3 separate regions of the Homo sapiens genome follow, and regions 1 and 2 are each linked to region 3. The links come from fine-mapping of genetic effects on gene expression. A gene starts in region 3. Each other region holds a variant in brackets. All regions are shown on one strand. Distances are between the middles of the regions.

Region 1 (8,177 bases), 24 kb after region 3:
CACTTGAATCCGAGAGGAAGAGATTGCAGTGAGCTGAGATCACGCCGCTGCACTCTAGCCTGGGCAACTGAGCAAGACTCCATCTCAGAAAGAAAAAAAAAAGTTTTGATTCCCTATCACATGCTTCATAAATTACAATGTCATGAAATCTTCATAACAGCCAAGTCTGGGTAATGGGTATAATACCTTGGGGCAGGTATTATTATTGTTATCATAGCTTTTTTTTTTTTTTTTGAGGTGGAGTTTCACTCTTGTCTCCCAGGCTGGAGGCTGGAGTGCAATGGCGTAATCTCGGCTCACGGCAACCTCTGCCTCCCGGGTTCACACTATTCTCCTGCCTCAGCCTCCCAAGTTGCTGGGATTACAGGCGTGGGTCACCATGCCTGGCTAATTTTTATTTTTCCGAGACAGTCTCGCTCTGTCGCCCAGGCTGGAGTGCAATGGTGCGATCTCAGCTCACTGCAACCTCCACCTCCCAGGTTCAAGAGATTCTCCTGCCTCAGCCTCCCCAGTAGCTGGGACCACAGGTGTGCGCCACCACGCCCAGCTACTTTTTGTATTTTTAGTAGAGATGGGGTTTCACCATGTTGACCAGGCTGGTCTTGAACTCCTGACCTCAGGTGATCCACCCGCCTCGGCCTCCCAAAGTGCTGGGCTGATAGGTGTGAGCCACTCTGCCCGGCCTGTTTTTACCATTGCTATTTTATACGTGCTCAGAGAGATGACCTAAGTTCCCAGAAGTGACACACGGGAAAGCGGCAGAGCTGGATTCAACCCAGGCTTGTGGAATCCCAGAGCCTATGCCCTTCCCTTCGCTGTGTCACATCTTCCTCTAAGGACCCAGTGAAACCCAAGTTCTCTGGGTGTGATTCACTCCCTGGAGTCCTCCGCCATCCAGAGGGTGGGTTCCGGAGTTGCCTCCTTCTCTGCATCCCAATTGGATTCCTCAGAGCCACCGCCTTCCTCCTGCCCAGCTCAGTGCAGGGTGCTCCGGCGCCTGGCATCTGAAGGATGTGCAGGCAGTGGCGTGATAGTGAGTGGGAGGAGGAGCCTCTGATCATCCACCAAGTTCAAACCTGCTTTTCCTGGCATGACCCTCAGCTAGGCAGCCCGGACTCTCCAGATGCCAGCCTGGCCATGCCAGGGGCCAAGGAGGATGCTTCAGGCAAAATCCCCACATGCAAGATGCTGGCTTCCCAGGGCTCCTCCAGGGTGGCAGGTGACAGGCATGTACGCTAGGGAGGGGACATCGGAGCTCTTCAGCCAAGCAACTCTGTTCGGAGAAAAAAGAAAAACCTTCAAGTCCTCGGGAGTGCCTCAAAGCAGAAACCTCAACCTGAAATACAGACCTCATTCAACCTGGCCGTGAATCCTTGCCACACCTTGCATTAGAGAAAGGCTCCTTTCCAAACCATTTCATGTGTGTGTTAAAAACCATTTCTGGGCGGGGCGCGGTGGCTCACGCCGGATCGCCTGAGGTCGGGAGTTCCAGACCAGCCTGGTCAGCATGGTGAAACCCCGTCTCTACTAAAAATACAAAAATTAGCTGGGCGTGGTGGCAGGTGCCTATAATCCCAGCTACTCAGGAAGCTGAGGCAGGAGAGTCGCTTGAACCCTGGAGGTGGAGATTGCAGTGAGCCGAGATCGCGCCACTGCACTCCAGCCTGGGTGACAACAGAGTGAGACTCCATCTCAAAAAAAAAAAAAAAAAAAAGAAAGAAAGAAAGAGAAAGAAGGCCAGGCGCAGTGGCTCATGCCTGTAATCCGAGCACTTTGGGAGGCTGAGGCGGGTGGATCACGAGGTCGGGAGATTGAGACCATCCTGGCTAACACGGTGAAACCCCGTCTCCACTAAAAATACAAAAAATTCTCCAGGCATGGTGGCGGGCGCCTGTAGTCCCAGCTACCCCGGAGGCTGAGGCAGGAGAATGGCGTGAGCCTGGGAGATGGAGCTTGCAGCAAGCCAAGATCGTGCCACTGCACTCCAGCCTGGGCGACAGAGTGAGACTCCATCTCAAAAAAAAAAAAAAAATGAAAGAAAGAAAAGTCTGAATCGATGACTAAACAAATCACAGGACTTTTCAGTAGTTAGTATTTTTTTTTTCAGGCTAGATTCCCCAAAGTAGAATTTCTGGGGTAAAGGGCGTGACTTTTTAAATTTTATTTATTTATTTATTTTAAGATGGCGTCTTGCCCTGTCGCCCAGCCTGGAGTTCAGTGGCACCATCTCGGCTCACTGCAACCTCCACCTCCCAAGTTCAAGCGATTCTCCTGCCTCAGCCTCCGGAGTAGCTGGGATTACAGGCGCACACCACCACGCTCGGCTAATTTTTTGTATCTTTGGTAGAGATGGGGTTTCACCATATTGGCCAGGCTGGTCTCGAACTCCTGACCTCGTGATCAGCCCACCTCGGCCTCCCAAAGTGGTGGGATTACAGGTGTGAGCCACTACGCTCGGCCACGGACATGACTATTTTTAAGACTCTTGATGCAAATTGCACACCCAAAGAGCAGGTGGTGCTTCCTACCTGTCTAAAGCAGTGCACAGCAGGACCCTCTCAGGTCCTGACATCAGTGTTGCATTTAAAATTCCTAACACCTGTCCAGGTGCGGTGGTTCATGCTTTTAATTCCAGCACTTTGGGAGGCCGAGGCAGCAGATCACTTGAGGTCACGAGTTCGAGAGCAGTCTGGCCAACATGGTGAGAGCCCATCTCTACTAAAAATACAAAAATTAGCCAGGCGTGGGCCGGGGGCAGTGGCTCACGCCTGTAATCACAGCACTTTGGGAGGCCGAGGTGGGCGGATCACGAGGTCAGGAGATCGAGACCATCCTGGCTAACACGGTGAAACCCTGACTCTACTAAAAATACCAAAAATTAGCTGGGTGTGGTGGCGGGTGCCTGTAGTCCCAGCTACTCGGGAGGCTGAGGCAGGAGAATGGCGTGAACCCGGGAGGCGGAGGTTGCAGTGAGCCAAGATCGCGCCACTGCACTCTAGCCTGGGCAACAGAGCGACACTCTGTCTCAAAAAAAAAAAAAAAATTAGCCAGGCGTGGTAGCGGGCGCCTACAACTCCAACTACCCAGGAGGCTAAGGTGGGAGAATCACTTGAACCCAGAAGGCAGAGGTTGCAATGAGCCGAGATTGCACCACTGCACTCCAGCCTGGGCTACAGAGTGAGGCTCTAAATAAATAAATAAATAAATAAAATTTCTAACACAAACCACCCTGTAGATAAGTACACTCAGCATATCTTTATTGAACGCATGAAAGGAAGAAGGGTTTGTTGTGATTTTTCTTTTGAGACAGCGTCTCCTTCTGTCACCCAGGCTGGAGTACAGTGTTGCAATCATGGCTTACTGCAGCCTTGACCTCCTGGCCTCCTGGCTCAGTAGTTGGAATCACAGGCACACGCCACCACACCTAATTTTTACACATTTTTGTAGAGACGAGGTTTCACCTTGTTGCCCAGGTTGGTCTTGAACTCCTGGGCTCAAGCAATTCTCGCACCTTGGCTTCCCAAAGTGCTAGGAATACAGATGTCAGCCCCATGCCAGGCCCCCTTTTGCATATCTTAACTTTAACTTTGTTTGTTTGTTTGTTTTGAGATGGAGTTTCATTCTGTCACCCAGGCTGGAGTACAGTGGTGTGATCTAGGCTCACTGGCAACCTCTGCCTCCTGGGTTCAAGCCAGTCTCCTCTCTCAGCCTCCGAGTAGCTGGGATTACGGGTACGTGGCACCACACCTGGCTAATTTTTGTATTCTTAGTAGAGATAGGGTTTCACCATGTTGGCCAGGCTGGTCTCAAACTCCTGACCTCAGGTGATCTACCCACCTCGGCCTTTCAAAGTGCTGGGATTACAGGCGTGAGCCACAGCGCCCGACAAACTTCTTTATATATGCATGCCAACAAAGAGTCAGACCCTGTAAAATATTTGAAGAGATTTATTCTGAGCCAAATATGAGTGACCATGGCCCGTGACAAAAGCCCTCAGGAGGTCCTGAGATGTGTGCCCAAGGTGGCTGGAGTGCAAGTTGTTTTTATACATTTTTGAGAGACATGAGACACCAATTAAATACACTTAAGAACTACATTGGCTTGGTCTAGAAAGTTAGGACAACTCGAAGCAGGGCGGGGTTGCTTCCAGGCTATAGGTGAATTTAAACACTTTCTGGTTGACAATTGGTTGAATTTGTCCAAAGACCTGGGATTCATAGAAAGGGAATGTTCAGGATAAGATAAATACTGTGAGCCCAGGCACAGTGGCCCAATCCCAGCACTTTGGGAGGCCAAGGCAGGCAGATCACCTGAGGTCAGGAGTTTGAGACCAGCCTGGCCAACATGGAGAAACCCTGTCTCTATAAAAATACAAAATTAGCCGGGTGTGGTGTTACATGCCTGTAATCCCAGCTACTCGGGAGGCTGAGGCAGGAGAATCGCTTGAACTC[G/A]GGAGGTGGAGGTTGCGGTGAGCCGAGATGATGCCATTGCACTCCAGCCTGGGCAGCAAGAGCAAACCTCCATCTCAGGAAAAAAAAAAAAAAAGATAAATATTGTGGACACCAAAGTTCTTTTGAAGTCTTATAGTGGCTGCTTTTAGAGACAATAAATGGCAAATGTTTCCTATTCAGATCTTAGTTAATCTCTATAGGATTGTGAGGTTCTGGAAGAAAAAGATCTAGCTATGTTAATAGAGATTCTTTACAGATGCAAATTTTCCCTAGCAAGGAACAGCTTTGTAGGGACATTTCAAAATATGACAAAGAAACATGTTTTGGGGTAAAATATTTTGATGTTCTTCCTTGTCTCATAATGTTATGCCAGAGTCAGTCAGGTTGGAAAGTCAGTCACAATACCTAGGGTTAAATAAAACCCATCTGAAGAGAATTTATGATTTGTAGGGCATGGCTCCCCAGACCCCTTAGATAGGAATTTGGGCAAGATAAAAATCAGAGTTTAGGCCGGGCGCGGTGGCTCACGCCTGTAATCCCAGCACTTTGGGAGGCCGAGGCAAGCAGATCACGAGGTCAGGAGATCGAGACCATCCTGGCTAACATGGTGAAACCCCGTCTCTACTAAAAATACAAAAAATTAGCCGGGCGTGGTGGCGGGCACCTGTAATCCCAGCTACTCGGGAGGCTGAAGCAGGAGAATGGTGTGAACCCAGGAGGTGGAGCTTGCAGTGAGCTGAGATTGTGCCACTGCACTCCAGCCTGGGCGACAGAGCCAGACAACGTCTCAAAAAAAACAAAAACAAAAAATCAGAGTTTAGTCCTCATGCCTCACATATGTGCCCAGGAAGTGGGTACTCCTGAAATCCCCGTTTCACAGATGAGGAAACTATGGTGGAGTATGAGAGGCTTGGCCAGGGACAGTATAAGAACAGGCACAGGCCAGGTGCGGTGGCTCACGCCTGTCATCCCAGCACTTTGGGAAGCCAAGGTGGGTGGATCACCCGAGGTCAGGAGTTCAAGACCAGCTTGGCCAACATGGTGAAACCCTGTCTCTACTAAAAATACAAAAATTAGCTGGGGATGGTGGTGTGCACCTGTAATCCCAGCTACTTGGGAGGCTGAGGCAGGAGAATCGCTTGAACCTGGGAGGTGGAGGTTGCAGTGAGCTGAGATCACAACACTGCACTCAAAAATGGGCAACAAGAGAAAACTCCATCTCAAAAAAAAAAAAAAAAGAGAACAGGCACAGGTAGAGATGATTAAATAGCAGTGAGCGCTCGGAATCTTGAGGAAGAGAGAAGGAAGGTGGGTAGGGCGTGTACCCATCTTAGATTCTTTGGCTGGGACCCTATTCATTAGACTAACAAAAGACAGATTGGCAAGAGAAAAATAAACAGAAGTTGATTATGACACTTGTACATGGGAGTACTCAGAGGTAAGTGACTCAAGAGGGTGGTTAGAACTGGGGTTTATGTAGCAACTTAACAAAAGAAGAATACATTTTAGTGAAGTGAAAAGACGAAGGGAAAGCACTAGGGCAGCAAATCGTGAGAGGGTCAATATATGGGGGATGAATGGAAGATGGGAGCTAGGAGTGGAGTCGGTTAAGTCTACTCCTCTGGGCCCCAGGAAGTTTAGGGTCTGGAGGTGTCTCTGGGATCAACTTTTGTCCTTCCTGGTGGTTTTTTTTGCGGGGTGGGCACATTTATAAATTTATGTCTTGCTTTTTGGCAGCTACGGGAAGGGCAGAGAGCTTTTCTTCTTCTTTTTTTTTTTTTTTTTTTTGAGACGGAATCTTGCTCTTGTTGCCCAGGCTGGAGTGCAATGGTGCAATCTCAGCTCACTGCAACCTCCACCTCTCGGGTTCAAGCAGTTCGCCTGCCTCAGCCTCCCGAGTAGCTGGGATTACAGACCTGTGCCACCACGCCCGGCACATATTTGTATTTTTAGTAGAGATGGGTTTTCACCATGTTGGCCAGGCGGGTCTCTAACTCCTGACTTCCTGATCCACCCGCCTCGGCCTCCCAAAGTGCTGGGATTACAGGCGTGAGCCACCACACCTGGCCTGTGCCTGTTCTTATACTGTCCCTGGCCAAGCCTCTCATACATCATGAGCCACTGCGCCTGGCCTGCTTTTCTTTCTTTTTCTTTCTTTCTTTCTTTTTTTTTTTTTTTTTGAGATGAGTTTTGCTCTTGTTGCCCACGCTGGAGTGCAATGGTGCTATCTCGGCTCACTGCAACCTTCTCCTCCAGGGTTCAAGCGATTCTCCTACCTCAGCCTCTCGAGTAGCTGGGATTACAGGCACGTGCCACCACGCCCGGCTAATTTTGTATTTTTAGTAGAGACGGGATTACTCCATGTTGGTCAGGCTGGTCTCAAACTCCTGACCTCAGGTGATCCACCCGCCTTGGTCTCCCAAAGTGCTGGGATTACAGGTGGGAGCCACCGACCCTGGCAGAGAGAGCTTTTCTTCTATCTGCTTCTTCTCAGTTGCTTTCAGCTCAACAGGATCCTCATTGCAAAGTGGCATGTTTTGGGCTATTGTATCTGTCAACCTTCAGAGGAATCTGAGAGGCGGGGCCCAGAACAGGTGGGTGGGATTCGGGAGGGAAAGTGGATTTGCTCAGGTACAGGGGTAGGGAGCGCTGTCCCGTCTTCAAGATGTCATCCCCTGCCTTGCTGGAATCTTCCCCACACTGTTCCTGACTCAGGGGCCCAGTCCAGTCTTTTTTTTTTTTTTCTTTGGGACAGAGTCTTGCTCTGTCACTTAGCCTGGAGTGCAGTGTCATGATCTCCACTTACTGCAACCTCTGCCTCCAAGGTTCAGGCAATTCTCATGCCTCAGCCTCCCAAGCAGCTGGGACTACAGGTGTGCACCACCACGCCCAGCTAATTGTTGTATTTTTAAGTAGAGATGGAGTTTCGCCATGTTGGCCAGGCTGGTCTCGAACTTCTGACCTTAGATGATCTGCCTGCCTTGGCCTCCCAAAGTGCTGGGATTATAGGCATGGGCCACTGCACCTGGCCCTGGCTCCCATTTCTGAGCTACATTGAGCTACTGAACTTCTGTGCCTTATTTTCCCCTTCTGTAAAATGGGAATAACAAATTCTTGACCTCAGTCTTCTTCTAAGTATTAAATAATTTTTTTTTTTATTTTTAAATTTTTGCCAGGTGCAGTGGCTCACGCCTGTAATCCTAACACTTTGGGAGGCAGAGGCAGGTGGATCACCTGAAGACGCAAGATCGAGATCAGCCTGGCCAACATGGTGAAATCCCGTCTCTACTAAAAATACAAAAATTAGCTGGGTGTGGTGGTGCACACCTGTAATCCCAGCTACTTGGGAGGCTGAGGCAGGATAATTGCTTGAACCCGGGAGGTGGAGGTTGCACTGAGCTGAGATCCCGCCACTGCACTCCAGCCTGGGCAATAGAGTGAGACTCCATCTCAAATAATAATAATAATAATAATAGTAAATAATAATAATAATTTTTCAAGAATAGAGACGGGGTTTCTTCATGTTGCCCAGGCTAGTCTCGAACTCCTGAGCTCAAGCAATCCACCCGCCTCAGCCTCCCAAACTGATGAGACTACAGGCATCAGCCACCATGCCTGGCTTTAAGTATTAAGTAATATCTGTAATGCACTTCTCAGGCAGCCTGCCTGGCACACAAGAACCCATTCATGTGTCCCTTTGTAAATTCCATAACCAGCTCCTCCAAC
Region 2 (8,158 bases), 56 kb before region 3:
CTCCCAGGTTCACGCCATTCTCCTGCCTCAGCCTGCCGAGTAGCTGGGACTCTAGGTGCCTGCCACCATGCCTGGCTAGTTTTTTTTGTATTTTTAGTAGAGACGAGGTTTCACTGTGTTAGCCAGGATGGTCTCGAAATCCTGATCTCCAGTGGTCCACCTGCCTCGGCCTCCCGAAGTACTGGGATCAGAACTGATTAAATTTCTAGCTCACTAAAAAAAAAACCAGAATGTCTGGCAACTCTAGGCTCATGTCCTACCCTGGTTGTGGAGTCTCCTAGATGAGAGGATTAGCCGCTGCTGCCAGGTGGCACGTCTCTTTTCCAATTTGCCTCGGTCCCTGATTCTCTGACTCTGAAATATGAGGTAAGTAACTGGTAACCCCGAACCTAGCTTCTTTCCCTTCCTCTTAGCCTCCTTACCTGACATGACCTTCCTGTGCCTACAGATTCTTGACCTCACCAGTCCTGTTCCATGGGTCCCTGTACCCTGGAGAAAGGCTTGGCTGGGCCCCTCTGCTATGAGGTGCATCCGAGAAACAGAAGATTTATTTGGCTCCTTCCTGAGCCAATGTTCCCATCTCATTTGCAGAAAAAATGGATCTGGGGTCCCAGCGGTTGGGGTGCCATCCTGCTTGTGAATTGCAACCCTGCTGATGTGGGCCAGCAACTTGAGGACAAGAAAACCAAGAAAGTGATCTTTTCAGAGGGTAGGACCTCAGACTGTCTCTGCCTTTCCTTCTTGGTCTCTTTGCTGCCCTGCTTCTCAGCAAATGGATTCCAGACTAATTTTCTCCACCCCACCCCCGACACCCTCTTCCCCAGTCCCCATGCCTGGGCTGATCAAACCTTTTGTCCTGAGTTGTAGATGTATAATTGGGTAAGAGAAGTCACATAGCCCCATGCAAAGAGCATGGGTGGTTACTTGTTTCCTAGCTGTGAACTTGAGCACACTAACTTCCCTGATCTTGTTTCCCTATTTGTAAAATGGGGATGATGCAGTTGGCCTCCCAACTATATCAGTTGGTTGACAAGACTAAATGAAGACAATAGGGGTATATGCGCTGCTTTCTAAAAAGCCTCTCATAGTCTGGGCCAGGAACCTTGGACTGTCTTGGGTAAAATTCGCCTTGGATCCTGACTTGCGGTTGGGACCAGGGTTCTGGGTCTTAGCAGTAGAATGGAATGTCTTGTTTCCTACTGAGACTGGAAACAAGACTGGAAACAAGGTGAACCTTCACTGAACTGATCGAGGTAGGCCCTGTTCTGTTTGTGGGGGACCATGGGATAAATCCCATCCTCCCTCAAAAGGAGGCCCTGAGGTTTGCAGCTTGCCTGTAGCCACCTAGAACAAGCAGTGAAATGGTAATTCTTCGGGCCTGGGCCCTAGCAAAAGGCAGGGGGTCCTTGGTGCTCTGTTCAAACTCCCGGCCCCTCTCTACTGCTCTTCCCTCCACCCCCAGAGTGCTGGCCTCCAGACATTCCTTAACCTTTGCTTTGTCTTTTGCCCAGAAATAACGAATCTGTCCCAGATGACTCTGAATGTCCAAGGCCCCAGCTGTATCTTAAAGAAATATCGGCTAGTCCTCCATACCTCCAAGGAAGAGTCGAAGAAGGCGAGAGTCTACTGGCCCCAAAGTGAGTGTTCTTGTGCCAGCTCCAGCTTTGCCTGCTCTCGACGTGCCAGGCAAGTTGTGCCCACACCTCCTCCCAGCAAGGTCCCCAGCAGAAGCCTGCTGGAGACCTAGAGCTGCAGATGAGAGGCTGTTGTGGCTGTACTTGTGTTTCCAGGATTCTCTGGCTGCCACCTTCCCCATAGGCTAAATCTGTACACATGGGTGAGTTATTGCACCTCTAAGCCACTTTCTCCACTTGTAAAATGGGGGTAGCTGTGCCTTCCCTGCAGGCTAGAAGAGAAGAGAGACATATCCACTGAAACAGTAGCTATTGCCTTACACAGAGTAGATCACATCTCCCAGTGACTCCTCTCAGGAGAATCCATCTTCACTCTAAACCAATGATCCACTATGTTAAATTTCCAGAAATCTGAGGCCAAAACCTCTAGAGCGGCAGCCACGGTAGCACCTGCATCCCAGCCACCACGCCATCCACCACCCATCTTCAGCCCTCCTCTCCTGGGAGGCAGGTAGCATACTCTATTCTATAGATGGAGGGCTGGTTAGGAGGTACACATGCCCAACTCCAGCAAAACAGCCTTGCACATCTTTTGACTTCCCTGAACTGGCTCAGGACTTGGCGTACCTCTAAATCTCTCATTGAGAGCTAGCTCTGCTTCTGGACGGACATGCCAGCATGCTTTCTTTGGGTTTTGTTTTGTTTTTCCCCTTTGAGTCAAGGTCTAGCTCTGTCACCCAGGCTGGAGTGCAGTAGTGTGATCACAGCTCACTGTAGACTAGACTCAGCTTCCTGGACTCAAGCAGTCCTCCTACCTCACACTCCCAAGGAGCTGGTATGACAGGTGTGTGCCACAACTGGCTAATTTGCTTTTCTTGTAGAGACGGGGTCTCACTTTGCCCAGACTGGTTTCAAACTCCCGGATGCAAACAATCCTCCTGCCTTGGCTTCCCAAAGTGCTGGGATTACAGGTGTGAGCTACTGCACCCGGCCCAACCTGCCACCTTGTCTTGTAAACCATGCTTAGCTTCAGCTACGCAACGCAGGGAGCTCTGTGGTCTATACTGTGCCTCTTCTCAGAGGGCACCATCTTTGTTGCCAGCATTGGAGAGTGTGCCCCTGCCACTTCCTGGTCTACACTCTGGGGCCTTGGCTCAGTCTCCTACTCCATCTCTTCTGCAGACCATAGATCTCAGCTGGATTTCAAAGTAGCCTGGGATTAGCCAGAAAAGGTAGCCCAGCTTGGACGTGGCCATCTTACACATGAGCTAGAGTGAGCCGAAGAAACCCAGGGGTCTAGGTCTGGTTCAGGCCACAAGGGCTACTCTGGCCCTGGGAGGCTACCAGTGCTGAAGTAGGTGGATTAGGCCAGGCAGGCCTTGGAGTCCGCCGGTTCATGTAGCTTGCTAAGGATGCCATACTTCATCATGTGGATCATAGCGAACTACCGGTTTCTTTATTGAAAAAGCTTATTCAGGCTGGGCGTGGTGGCTCATGCCTCTAATCCCAACATTTTGGGAGGCTGAGGCAGATGGATCACCTGAGGTCAGGAGTTCGAGAACAGCCTGGCCAACATGGCGAAACCCTGTCTCTACTAAAAATACAAAAATTGGCATGGTGGCGGGCATGCCCGCCAGCTACTCAGGAGGCTGAGGCAGGAGAATTGCTTGAACCCGAAAGGCAGAGGTTGCAGTGAGCCGAGATCATGCCACTGTACTCCAGCCTGAGTGAGACTCAAAAAAATAATTTTTTTAAAAAAACTTATTCAACAATCTAGGGGCTGAGCACGGGGCTTATGCCTATAATCCCAACACTTCGGGAGGCCAAGGCAGGCGGATCACCTGAGGTCAGGAGTTCGAGACCAGCCCGGCCAACATGGCAAAACCACATCTCTACTAAAAAATACAAAAGCTAGCTGGGCTTTGTGGCATATACCTATAATCCCAACTACTCAGGAGACCAAGGCAGGAGTGAACCTGGGAGGCAGAGGCTGCAGTGAGCCGACGTTGCACCACTGCACTCCAGCCTAGGTGACAGAGTGGGACT[C/G]TGTCTCAAAAAAAAAAACTTAAAAATCAGGGTAGGGCAACACAGCATGTTATGTTTTAACAAGCCTTCCAGGTGACTCTGAAACATGCTAAAGCTTGAACCACAAAAAGATACAGCAAAAGAGTCTGAAAAGTTTACAGAGGAATAGAAAGCCAGAATACAGGGTTCTAGAAACAGGCTGGGTGTGTTGGCTCACACCTGTAATCCCAGCACTTTGGGAGGCCAAGGCAGGAGGCTTACTTGGGCACAGGAGTTCAAGACCAGCCTTGGCAACACAGTGAGACCTTGACTCTGAGATAAGATTATTTTTATAAAGAAGCCTGGCCAGGCGTGGTGGTTCATGCCTTAATCCCAGCACTTTGAGTAGACCAAGACTGGTGGATCACTTTTGAGGTCAGGAGTTTGAGACCAGCCTGGCCAACATGGTTAAAACCATCTGCTAAAAATACCAAAATTAGCTAGGTGTGGTGGCTTTAGCTTGTAATCCTAGCTACTCAGGAGACTGAGGCGGGAGGATCATGTGAACCCGGGAGGCAGAGGCTGCAGTGAGCCGACATTGCACCACTGCACTCCAGTCTGGGCAAAGTAAGGCAGTGGCCAACCCTGGCAAATGCTGTGGGATAGACTAAGATGCCCAAGCCCATAGTAAAGTCACAATCCTCAGAATGGCAGTCATCAGTGACCCTGATAATAACAGTGAAAAGCCAGGTTGAAATGGGGAGGCACAGTAAATCTAGGCCACAGAAAGAATTCTCTCTCCGTAAAGGGAGATGTGTGGTGGTAATTACAGGGGCCAGCACGCAGTCGAGCGTGTCTGAAGCTGGTAGTACACGGGCAGATGTATAGATGGAACTGATCCAACAGGGGTGGGGAAATGGATCCTAGAGGAAGATCTGAGAAGTTTGCAGAGGAATAGAAAGCCAGAAGACAAGGTTCTAAACAGGCTGGGCGTGGTGGCTCACACCTGTAATCCCAGCACTTTGGGAGGCCAAGGCAGGAGGATCACCTTTAGGACTATGGAATACAGGTGAGTCTGTGGACAGGAATGAGACGATAGTGTTTGAGTAGTGTTGGTGGCTTGCTCTGAGGTCTGGTCGTAGCCTGAAATGAGGCCTTTTGGTGTGATGGTTTTCTCCAGCATCTCAGGTGCAAGAGTGAGCTTTAAAGACCTGGTGTGACCAGAATGGAGGTTTTCCAGGAAAGCAAACTAGAAAAAGGTGTGGGAGTGGACAGTGTGTATAAGAGAGGATGTAGTGATGGGTTTTTGGGCTCTGAGAAGGGTCAAAGGGAAGTGTGAGGATGGAGGGTGGGGATCGGTAGGAGGATCTGGGACTGAGGTTGGGGACTCGCTGGGGTGGGAGCATAGGTGAGCGAAACAGATCGGAAGGCATTGTCTGCCTTGGAGGTGGCATCTAGTCTGGGTTATGATCATTGTAATGGATGTCTAAGGTGGTATAGAACCCAGGTTCATTGAAATAAGGTCGTCGAAGAGAGATCAAAATGTCTAGATGTTCTAGTCTATTGTCAGATACCAGTGACACAACAGCAGTGGAGGGCAAGTATGCTAGAACAATCCACGAAGGATGGAGAGGATGACATCGTCGTCCCCAAAAGAAAGGGGTAGCTGGCATTATCTGATGGCCAGCACTTCACAGGAACTGGGATTCTTGAGGAATAGAGAAATGGCCGAGAAGTGCCAGTGAAGAACCAAGAAGGGTACCCACCTTCCTGTAAGTCCAGCAGTACATGGCAGGTAGGAAAAAGCTCAGCTCAAATCATCAGTATTTGCTCTGTGCCCTGAGGATCCAGCTCTGGAAGAATAAACCATGTTACCTGCTCTCAGAGCCTGCTACGACAGATGGACAGACAGTCGAGGACCCAGCAGAGGCTGGAGGGAGCCCTTTAATATGCCCCCAGGGTGGGTAGGGAGAGTTTGAGGTAGCTAAGGCCTCCTGGGCAGCTCTGTGAGGACTGAGGGCAGGGAGGGCCTTCCAGGTAGAGGCAGCTATTGTGTGTACTTGGGTCGCAGGGCTTCTGGCCTCCCCCATGCTTCTGTTTAATGGGGACAACAAATGCCTGCTTCAAAGGGTCCTGAGGATGTGAGCCCATGAGCCTGAAACACCTACCACAGCTCCTAGCAAAGATAGCCCACAGTGAAATGTTAGCTATGCTTCACAACAAACTATCTGTGAGAGGGGCCCCCAGAAGGTCAACCACAGGAGAGCCAGCCAGTAGGGGATTGTGGCAAACAGACTGTGACCCTCTCGCCCTCACTGCCTGGTGGTGAATCACCCTTGGGTGGAATGGCCACAGGGAGCCCAGGTCCCCAGAACAGGAGCAGGCCCTAGGTGTGTGGCACCTCTTGGGCTGCATGCCGTGGGCCTGCTGATGCTATCGCAGGTCAAGAGGGCTGTGTCTGCACTGGGAAGTTGCAGGGGTTCCTGGGGGAAGACTGCCTTGTCTGGTCTTGCCCCATGAGGCCTGGCTCAGGGCTGGTGAAGCATCTAGGTAGATGAGAAGCAGGAACTAGCACAGGAGTGGTCCCGGTGGGCCCAGTTCCCTCACAGCCAGCAGCAGGACTGAGGCTGGGCCTGTAACCAGCATCCCCAGGGCCTCCAAGGAGGGGCTGCTGCAGAACTGCAGAGTCCATCGGGAGGGCTGCTGGGGCTCTAACCCAGAGCAAGAGGCCGAGGACCCAGGGCAGTGCCTAACCAGGGGCAGCCACGGCCGCAGCTGCAGCCATCTGCTGGCACGTTGGAGGAGCTGGAGATGGAGGCAGCTGGCAGTGCCGTGCAGAAGGTCTGAGGATGCTACAGTTCCTGGATCTCTTGGGGTTCTAGTGGCCAAGGTAAATCTAGCTTAGGATCCCCTGAAATAAGTCACCTGGAATCTTGAGCAGGAACAGCCATCAGGCCTACAGCTGCCACATCGGGCACAGATAGAGGACAGGCCAGGAAAGAGGAAGTTCGAGTGACCCAGGTGGGAGAAGTCAGGGTCATTTCTGACCTAGAAAATGAATGGACTTGGGCTGGGCACAGTGGCTCACGACTGTAATCCTAGCACTTTGGGAGGCTGAGGCAGATGGATTGCCTGAGCTCAGGAGTTGGAGACTGGCCTGGGCAATGTGGTAAAACCCCATCTCTACTAAAAATACAAAAAACTAGCCGGGCATGGTGGTGCACACCTATAGTCCTAGCTACTCAGGAAGCTGAGGTACAAGAATTGCTTGAACCCAGGAGATGGAGGTTGAAGTGAGCCGAGATAGTGCCGCTACACTCTAGCCTGCTCAACAGAGCAGGACTCCACCTCAAAAAAGAAAAGGAGGGGGGGGGGCCAGGCGTGGTAGCTCACACCTGTAATCCCAGCACTTTGGGAGGTCCGAGGTAGGCAGATCACGAGGTCAGGAGATCAAGACCATCCTGTCTAACGAGACGGTGAAATCCCGTCTCTACTAAAAATACAAAAAATTAGCCAGGCGTGTGGTGGTAGGTGCCTGCAGTTCCAGCTACTCAGGAAGCTGAGGCAGAATGGCCAGAATCCAGGAGGCAAAGCTTACAGTGAGCTGAGATCACGCCACTACACTCCAGCCTGGGCGACAGAGCAAGACTCCCTCTCAAAAACACCTTTAGGATCTAATTAGCAAACGGACAACCACCACGTGTGGTCAACTTCCTTCTGATCTCTTCTGTGCATGGTTTTGTATTTAATGACCTAAAACTAGGAGACAGGCTTAACATGTATAATCATAAGAACACTTGGTTTCTTCAGAAAACTTGATGGAGGCATAATCCATCCAATAAATGGTTCTCACTGACCTTTCTAGCATCAGTAAGTGATTTTTTTCAGATGAGGCTGCTGAGCCCAGCCTGGGACAGTTTCTCACCTTTAGGACTCTGATATTATCGCAGGAGTTGGATTCATGGGCCAAAATGTAGAACCACCTACCCTGAGGCTTCACACCAGTCAGGAGCCTTGAAGGCATCATCACCTGAGCTCCAACTCCTGGCATGTAATAGGTCTTCAAGGAATACTGGTGAATAACTGGCCATTGCTTGTGTATGAACATCTGGTTGTCTACCAAGACCTGAATGCTAGAAACGGGGATGGCTGAGCCATTTCAGCTCCAGCCCTCCTGGAACTCACAGCCTTGCATCTGATATGAGGAATGAGCTGGTACCTTGACCATCAAATGTGACCGGCACCAGGTTACTTCAGTGGCTGGTCCATCCCTTCTTTCTCTCCTAGAAGACAACTCCAGTACCTTTGAGTTGGTGCTGGGGCCCGACCAGCACGCCTATACCTTGGCCCTCCTCGGGAACCACTTGAAGGAGACTTTCTACGTTGAAGCTATAGCATTCCCATCTGCCGAATTCTCAGGCCTCATCTCCTACTCTGTGTCCCTGGTGGAGGAGTCTCAAGACCCGGTATGTCCCCATAATAGATGGGTCCTCAGACTAGGATGCTCCGGTGGGGGAAAA
Region 3 (8,177 bases):
TGAGGCATAAAGGGGCATCATATGCTGAACCCTCAGCCTCCCAGGTGCTCTGATTCTAGAACAGCACCGACAGCCCAAAGGATGGGCATCATGGGCCCCTGTTGGTTTTAAGTGGATAGAGAAAGGAAGATGTAGCTTTTAGAGTCCTGCTTATACACATATGTAAAATAATAACGTATTTATGTGTATAAACAGGAACTTAAAAGCTGCAATGGACTGCTGTTTACTCACATTAAGACTTACAAACATGCAACCCAACACAGGGCTCGCGCCTGTCATCCCAGCACTTTGGAAGGAGGCTGAGGCAGGCAGATCACTTGAGGCCAGCAGTTTGAGACCAGCCTGGCCAACATGGTAAAACCCAGCCTCTACAAAAAGTACAAAAATTATTCGGGTGTGGTGGAACACACTTGTAATCCCAGCTGCTCGAGAGGCTGATCAGCACACAAAAATCACTTGAACCTGAGAGGCGGAGGTTGCAGTGAGCTGAGATCGTGCCACTGCACTCCAGCCTGGCCATAGAGGGAGACTCTGCCTCAAAAAAAAAAGACTAACAAATGTGCCATTTCCATTGACAAAGCAGCTTCAAGCAGCACAGCTGGAGACAGAGGTGGGCCAGGGAGAGCCAGTGTCCCTCACACACTCCCTGTCTCTACCTCCTTGGGTCAATCTCAGCATGGGGTAAGGATCTTTTGCTCTGATGGCAAAATTCAGCGTTCCAACAGTCTGGAGCTGTACAGCTGATAACTGCAGTCTTGGATGTCTAAACACAATCTTGCTTTTGGAAACTCACTCAAAATAGGATACAGGAGACGCGGAAGCTCACCTGGCCTTTCTTTTTAGTTTCATCCTAACATACTGTGTTCGGAGGGCAAATGTCTGGAGTCTGGCACAGCAGACTAGACGTCAAAGGAAAACAGTTCCTGTGTTCCAGTTTCTCAATACTTTGGCCATTGTCTAGTCTAGCCTGATCCAAGACCCCGGGCAAGACCTTTTGACAGCTTTTGACGGGCTCTCCTCCACTGCCTAACATGTTAACCCTTTCACCCAGAAGGCACTTTTACAAAGCATATTCCCATGTGCAATTTGCAGGGACATCAGGAGTTACAGCATTTGGAGATCCAGTTCCATCCATGACTTTGGACAAGGCCCTCGAATTCTGTGCCCCAGTTTCCCTATCTATAAAACGGACGTAGAAAATGTGTTATTAGACACTGCCTGCGCTTCTCTGGAGGAAAGCACTCTGCTGTTAACCCTTAAACACCCTTAGGAGATGGGCACTTATGGAAGGAAAAAAACCTCTCCGGGTGTCAGGCTCTACACCCCAGGTGGAAGTTCTTGCTCTCTGGGGGTTATCTGAGAATCTGGTGAAAACTTAGACCCTCTTCTGAAAAACATATCCCACACCACACCAAACTTAAAGAAAGTTCTGTGGGGGTGGGGAGATGCTGTGGCGGCAGATGCCGGGTTCAGATCTCCGGCTCTGCAGGCTTTTTCGGGAACGTTAACTTGAGTCAGCCACGACCTTAATTAAGATTTGAGAAAACAGAAGCCCGCCCAGGACCCTAGGAGATGCTTCTTCACTTGGGGGGGCTACAACAGAGCCCTCGCGAGCATCCTGCAGCTTCGGACCACCGGCGGCAAACAAAGCCCGAGCACCGCTCAGCCGGGGGGCTTCCCCGACCTCGGGGGAGGGCTCTGCGGAGCATGCGCGGCGGCCGTCAGGCCCCGCCCCCCCCGGGCGCCGGAGCCGAGGCGGCGGGAACCTCAAAGCCCCGGCGCAAACGGCCGCTCCCCGCAGAGCGCCGGCCGCCCCCTCCCCGCGGCGCCCGGGCGCAGCGGCGGCCACGGACGTGTGGGGCCCGCTGGCCGCCCCCTCTTCCAGGCCGGGCGAACTTACCGAGGTCCCCTTTCCCGGGGCGGGGGGGGAGGGGCGCAGAGGGAGCTGTGGGGGCGGGGCCATGACCCCCTCGTGCGGGCTTCGGCCGCCCCTCCCCCGCCGCGGGCCCGGGCGCGCGCCCCAACCGCCAACCGCCCGCGCGGTGCCCGGGGTCGGGTAGGCCGCGGGCCGCGCGCCCCGTACCGAGCCCTTTTGTTGCGCGGAGGCGGAGGCAATGATTCAGCCCGCGGCCTGCGCCGGCCCGGCCGCCGGGAGGGAGCGTGACGCGAGGCGGCCCCCGGCTGGAACGCGCGCCGTGCCGCGTCGCTGAGCCCGCCGGCCCCGGCCCTGCGCCCACCCGTCTACCCTGACCCTCACTCACGACGCGCTCCTTGGTGTGCTCGGGTTCGGTGATGACCACGGCCGCGCCGCCCGCCTTGCCTGCTGTCGCCGGCCGCGCCGCGCGCTTGCCCCCGCCGGGGGCCCCGTCGAGCTCCAGGCCGTCCTCGTCGCCGCTGCTGCCGCCGCCGCTGCTGCTACTGCAGCGCTCGGGCCGCTCGCGCTTCCTGCCCGCCGGGCCGCCGCGTTTCCTGGGCCCGGCGCGGGCAGTGCCGTTGCCCGAGCTCGGCTCCTCCCAGGCCGCCGCCGCCGCCTTCTTCCTGGGCATGGTCGCGGCTGGAGGGAGACACGGGGCAGCGGCGCACAATGGACGGGTTATAAACTGCGCGGGGGGAGGGGAGCGGAGACGAGCCACCCGGCCTCCACTTCCTCCTCTGCCCTCCCCAAAGTGGCGGCCGCAGGGTGGGCGGAGAGGGGGCGAGTTGGGAGAGGAAATCGCGCCCCTCCCTGGCCCCGGCGCGGCTCCTTCGGGGAATCCCGCAGGGCAGCCGGGAGCCCCAGAGGCAATCCCCTGGAGGGAGAATTGAGACCCCCGGCCTATCCGTAAGTTAGGTTTGCCCACAAAGCATCACAGTTGCAACCTCGCCCCCCAAAAGTAAAGGGAAAGTAAAACCAGCCTCCAGTCCCCTAGATTTTCATTAAAGAAGGCTTCGGGACACTTCCAGGATTCCCCCTTGGCACCTGGGTGGTAAGGGAGCCCCTGCTCCCCGGCTACCCCACCTGCTGCTTTTGTCTCCGCAGTCTCCCCCCAAACCCACTCATGGCATTTAATGCAACGCTCTCCCCCACCCCGCATCAGCCCTGGACCCCCGTTCGGCCCCAGCTCAGGGGTGCCGACCTCGGGCTCTAGTTAGCCGAATCCCTACGGCGGACTGCCCCCGGCGACGGGGGAAGAGCCCGAAGAAAGCTGGACCCCAGCCCCAAACACCTGCTCGCACAGACACGAAAAATAAAAACTTTAATGGTGCCCAACTCTCTCCCAGCCCCCTTGCCGGCCGTGCGGCCCGGCCGGTCTCCGATTCGACTGCAAAGTGTCCAGGGCCGCCGCCAGCTCCCCGGCGTCCCTGCGCTCTCCCCTGTCTGCTTTTTTTTTTTTTTTTAATTGATTTTGAACAATGGGATCTCTGTCTGTCTCCGATTAAACCACGTGGATCCGCCTTCCTTCCTCTTTTTATTCCTTCAATCACCCAGCCCCCCTCCCCCAGGTTTTTTTTTAACCTTTTCTCTTTAAAAAAAGGAAAAAAAAAAAAACTTTCCCAGACCCCACAAACTGATCACTGTCGATTTTCAGACCCTACCTGGTTGGAGTGATGAGAAACCGGAGAGAAAAAAGGAAGAGAAGCAACTAAAAGACGGATCGGAGGGCTTTTTTTTTTCCGGCCCAGACGAGGGCTCCAGCCCACTCACCAGATACACTTAAAATGTAAATACGAGCTTCCAGAACAAATGCTACAACACAAAACAGAAACACATGTGCGGCCGCGCGGCAAGCGAGCGCGCGGCGGGGCGGGAGGCGCGGGGCGCGGGGCGCGCGCGCCCCCTGCCGGCCGGCGGACCCGTTGCCGGCGCCCCCGCCCCGCCCGGCCTGGCCCTGCCCTGCCCACCCGAGCCTGCGCCGCGCGCCGCGCGCCTCGCCGCCCGCCTCGGCTCCGCTGCTCCTGCGCCTTTCGCGGGCCCGCGAGCGCGCTTTGGGCCTTCCACGCAGTGCGGCCTGCGCGTCAGGGACTTCTTTGCGGCTTAGGAGGATGTTGGATTGTTTTTCCTGGGCACGTCTAGACAGGTCACATGAGGACACTCGCTGGAAAATAGTTACTTCGCTCACGCAGCAGCCAACAAGGGACGTGCCCTAATTGAGTGATTGGAATGAAAGATGAATACAATTTGAATAATTTTTTCCTGTGCAGAGAGAAGCTGAGTTTTATTTGCCTGTGGATGTGTCCTCAGTATGTAACAAGGTGCTGTGACACGGAAGAATCACATAAAGGTTTGCTGTATTAGTGAATTAATTCATAATTAATTTGAGGGCCGTGGAGGCACTGGAAGCTGGCTTTGAGGGGAACTTTTTCATTTTTTGCCAAATATTTACTGAGCCCCCGGTACATGCAAGACCCACAGTGCCCGGGGCTGCAGAGCCAGTGAACAAGGTTTCCACCCCAGTGGAACGCACAGCCTAACGGAAAGACAGATCAGTAAACAAGTAATTACAACAGTGGTAAGCTTTACAAAGTGATGCCTGTGTAGGAACATTATGGCGAGGGGATTTATCCTAGTCCAGGGCCAGGGAAGGCATTCAGGTGGAAAGTTATGCTGAACAACTTAAAGGATGAATAAGACCCGATGAAAGGGGGCAGGAAAAGTATTCCAGGCCAGGTGGAGTGAACGGGACGCTCCACATTTCGAGATCTTGAGAGACACCTCCTGGGAGGGAAGCTGTCTGGTGGGGCTGGGGTGAGAAGAGCCAAGAGGCTGGGTTCTGAGGAGGTAGGCAGGGGTGCGAGGGCCTGCATAGACCCTAGTGAACCGCAGTGAGGCTTGATCTCGTTCGCGTGTCCTGGGACGGGTGAAAAAAGCCTTGCTTGCTTCCTACCGGTCTCCACCCTCCACCTCTCCACCCCACTTCCATTACGATCTCACCGTCACTTGCTCTCCTCTCAAAGCTTTTCTCCTGCTTCTTTTTTCCTGAGGCGTACCGCACAAGGAAGTTCCTTCTTCAGGCAACTTCTTGAAAACGCATAAAGTTCTAGGATTTTTGTGATTCATTCATTCATTGTTAGTGCAAGAAACAGGACTGGGAAGCATCAAGTGTCCTGTAAAGGAAGACAGAGAAACCAAGAGGCCCAAATCTAAGGTATTTGATCAAAGTCAAAAGTCTGTGTGTCAAGAGAGCTGAGAGTGCTTATGTAAAAGAACTTTGGAAATGAGAAATCAACTGGTACGTTTCAGAGATTTTCAGAAAAGTCAAGATGGAATAGAAGCACCCTTTGAAAGCCTATTCTTAATAGACCTGCATTTAAAAAGATTTTTTAGAGGTTAAACTTTGACGCTTTGATATAAAGCATAAGTAGAACCAACCAGAAAAGAATTTCGCCTAAATATGCCATCAAGTCCCCTTCAGGAAATGGCATGCTGATGCTTGTCAGCCGAGGCGGGTGGCTGGGTGTTTATCCTCTAAACACCCTGTGTGGCCAATTAGGAACACCACTGACAGTACCTTTAGATTTCAGTCTGCAAGTCTTTTCCTTTTTTCTCCTGCCCCTTTATAATGCTTTTTGCCAGCTTAAAAGACTCATGCCTCAGACACACTGATGCAATGAGACGCTAATATCATATTGCATCATCTGATCCTAGGTGTGGTGCTCCTGAAACTGGTTTTTCTTGAGGTTATGCTGCAGTAGAAAAGCACTTTGGGTATAACACCCTGGAACTGGCCCTACTTGTCAGAAGACAAAAGTAATTTTTGCAACTCCATGCCTCAATTCCACACCACTATTCTCCCAGGGAAAGCCTGCGTGACTCTCCCGGCTGGAATTGGGTGTGCAACAGACATTCATCAGTTAGGCGTGTCATGCTGCCACTTATGTAACAAATGTTACATAGTGAGGTGCACCTACAGGCAAGCTGAAAATGACACTTCCTCCTTCAAACTGTGCTTGGAATTTCACCTCGCTTCTAATTGAGCAAATTCTCCAGGGACAGGATGGTTTGGTGCAAAACCGGGAGAGGGGAAGGGAAAGAAGGTGGCTGAGATTTCTCTGACACTTTGAGGCACAGGTGTCTGGCACTGTGCTGAGCATTTTACACCCAGAATTTTGGAAATGTGGCTGCAAGTGCCAGCCTGCCGTCACTCTTTAACCTCATCTTCAGCAAAATCATATTGCAAGTTAGATTCAGCTACGCTTAAGTTCTTTTCCAGGGGTGAGGTGTGATTTTTTCTTTCTTTTTTTTTTTTTTTTTTTTATTTTTTTAGATAGAATCTTGCTCCTCCAGCACCCAGGCTGAAGGGTGATGGTATGATCCCAGCTTACTGCAGCCTCTACCTTCCTTGCTCAAGCGATCCTCTCGCTTCAGCCTCCCAAGTAGCTGAGACCACAGGCATGGACAGCTACACTTGGCTAAATTTTTTTTCTTTTTTAATGTTTTGTAGAGACAAGGTCTCTCTCTGTTGCCCAGGCTGGTCTCGAGTGGTCCTCCCACCTCAGCCTCCCAAAGTTGCGGGATTATAGGGGTGAGCCACTGTGCACAGCCTCAGAAGTATAATTCATTTTTTTTTTTCTTTTGAGGTGGGGTCTCGCACTGTCACCCGGGCTGGAGTGCAGTGGTGGCAACCTCCACCTCCCAGGTTCAAGCAGTCTCCTGCCTCAGCCTCCCAAGTAGCTGGGATTACAGGCGCATACCACCACGCCTAGCTAATTTTGTATTTTTAGTAGAGACGGGGTTTCACCATGTTGGCCAGGCTGGTCTTGAACTTCTGACCTCGTGATTTGCCCGCCTTCGCCTCCCAAAGTGCTAGGATTACAGGCGTGAGCCACTGTGCCCAGCCTCAGAAGTGTAATTCTATTCAACTTGGCTACAGAAAGCTACACCTGTACTTGAAAGATTAATTTTCTGATCCAGTGTCTATAAAAATGAAACCAGTGATCCTGGGAGTGATGCGCTAACCAATGGAAACGATTCTTTCTCTTTTTTTTTTTTTGGAAACTGGGTCTCACTCTGTCACCTAGGCTGGACTGTAGTGGCGCCATCTTGGCTCACTACAGCCTCGACCTCCTGGGGTCAAACAGTTCTCCTGCCTCAGCCACCCTAGTAGCTGAGACTGTAGACGTGCACCTCCACGCCCAGCTAATTTTTAAAATTTTTTTGTGGAGACAAGGTCTCACTATGTTCCCCAGGCTGGTCTCAAACTCCTGACCTCAAGCAATCCTTTTGCCTTGGCCTCCCACAGTGCTAGGATTATAGGCATGTGTCACTGTGCCTGGCTTCTTTTTACTCTTTTCAATGTGACTACCACAAAATTTAATATTACATATTAAGTTTTTTGTAGCTCATATGTTATTCCTGTTGGACATCACAGCCTTCGAAAGCATAGCTGGAAAACCAGTAATTTCCTCCAGACCCCACTCTTTCTGCATCTGTTCTCTAGTTTCTCCTCTCTGTAAAATGGCAAGATAGAGTTTGGGCTAAATTTCTCTTGAGGTTACTTCTGGATTTCGTATTCCCTGATTCTGAGGACAGTAGTCAGCGGGGAATCCCTGTCATAGTGTTTGGAGAGATGTTTTCTGGGAGATGCAGATCCGGTCGTCCTATTTCTGCCAATGAGTCATGAAATTTTCAAACGCAGAGTCTTTAAATATTGTAGTTGGACCTTTAAGTTCTCTGTCTGTGAGGCATGCCTGGGCTTGGCTTGTGGCTTCTTCATCTTTGTTTTTCTAGCAAGCACCCAGAGCAGCCCGGCGTGTAGTAAGCTGTCAATATATGTTTGTTCATCTAAATAATATCCAGCGGAAGAACTGAAGCCCAGGGAGATGCTGAGGCCTCCTGAGGCCACACAGCTGGCAGATAGGATAGCCAGGAAGTGTACAGGCATCTGCATCAGTAGGAGGATTGTCAGAAACACAGAATCTGGCCAGGCGTGGTGGTACACGCCTGTAATCCCAGCACTTTGGGAGGCTGAGGCAGGACGATTGCTTGAGCCCAGGAGTTGGAGACCAGCCTGGACAACATGGTGAGACCCCATCTCTACAAAAATTAGAAAAAAATTAGCCAGCCGCGGCCAGGCGCAGTGGCTCACGCCTGTAATCCCAGCACTTTGGGAGGCCGAGGCGGGCAGATCACTTGAGGTCAGGAGTTCGAAACCAGCCTGGCCAACATGGTGAAACTCCCGTCTCTGCTAAAATATACA

What was found. PIP is the estimated chance that this variant, and not a neighbour inherited with it, causes the effect. A credible set is the group of variants that fine-mapping cannot tell apart.
Region 1: its variant is the best candidate, but not a certain one, in a credible set for the expression of RCC2 in whole blood (INTERVAL, PIP 0.58).
Region 2: its variant is the best candidate, but not a certain one, in a credible set for the expression of RCC2 in whole blood (TOPMed, PIP 0.89).

The regions. Positions count from the first base shown.
Region 1 is chr1:17,459,512-17,467,688 of GRCh38, forward strand. No RefSeq gene overlaps it. Among named protein-coding and RNA genes, the nearest start is that of RCC2, 24 kb to the left of the region's middle. RefSeq lists an enhancer at 606-1,413. The variant G/A (reference allele first, on the strand shown) is at 4,452.
Region 2 is chr1:17,380,456-17,388,613 of GRCh38, forward strand. PADI6 (peptidyl arginine deiminase 6) reads left to right here. Exons shown (of 16, transcript NM_207421.4): 5 at 592-709; 6 at 1,512-1,637; 7 at 7,926-8,104. Among named protein-coding and RNA genes, the nearest start is that of PADI6, 12 kb to the left of the region's middle. RefSeq lists an enhancer at 811-2,010. The variant C/G (reference allele first, on the strand shown) is at 3,681.
Region 3 is chr1:17,435,969-17,444,145 of GRCh38, forward strand. It overlaps RCC2 (regulator of chromosome condensation 2), which reads right to left and starts at 3,709. Exons shown (of 13, transcript NM_018715.4): 1 at 3,577-3,709; 2 at 2,262-2,554. The coding sequence starts at 2,546. LOC124903862 (a long non-coding RNA gene) reads right to left here and starts at 5,575. Exons shown (of 2, transcript XR_007065508.1): 1 at 5,490-5,575; 2 at 4,168-5,085. RefSeq lists silencers at 2,390-2,489, 3,809-3,948.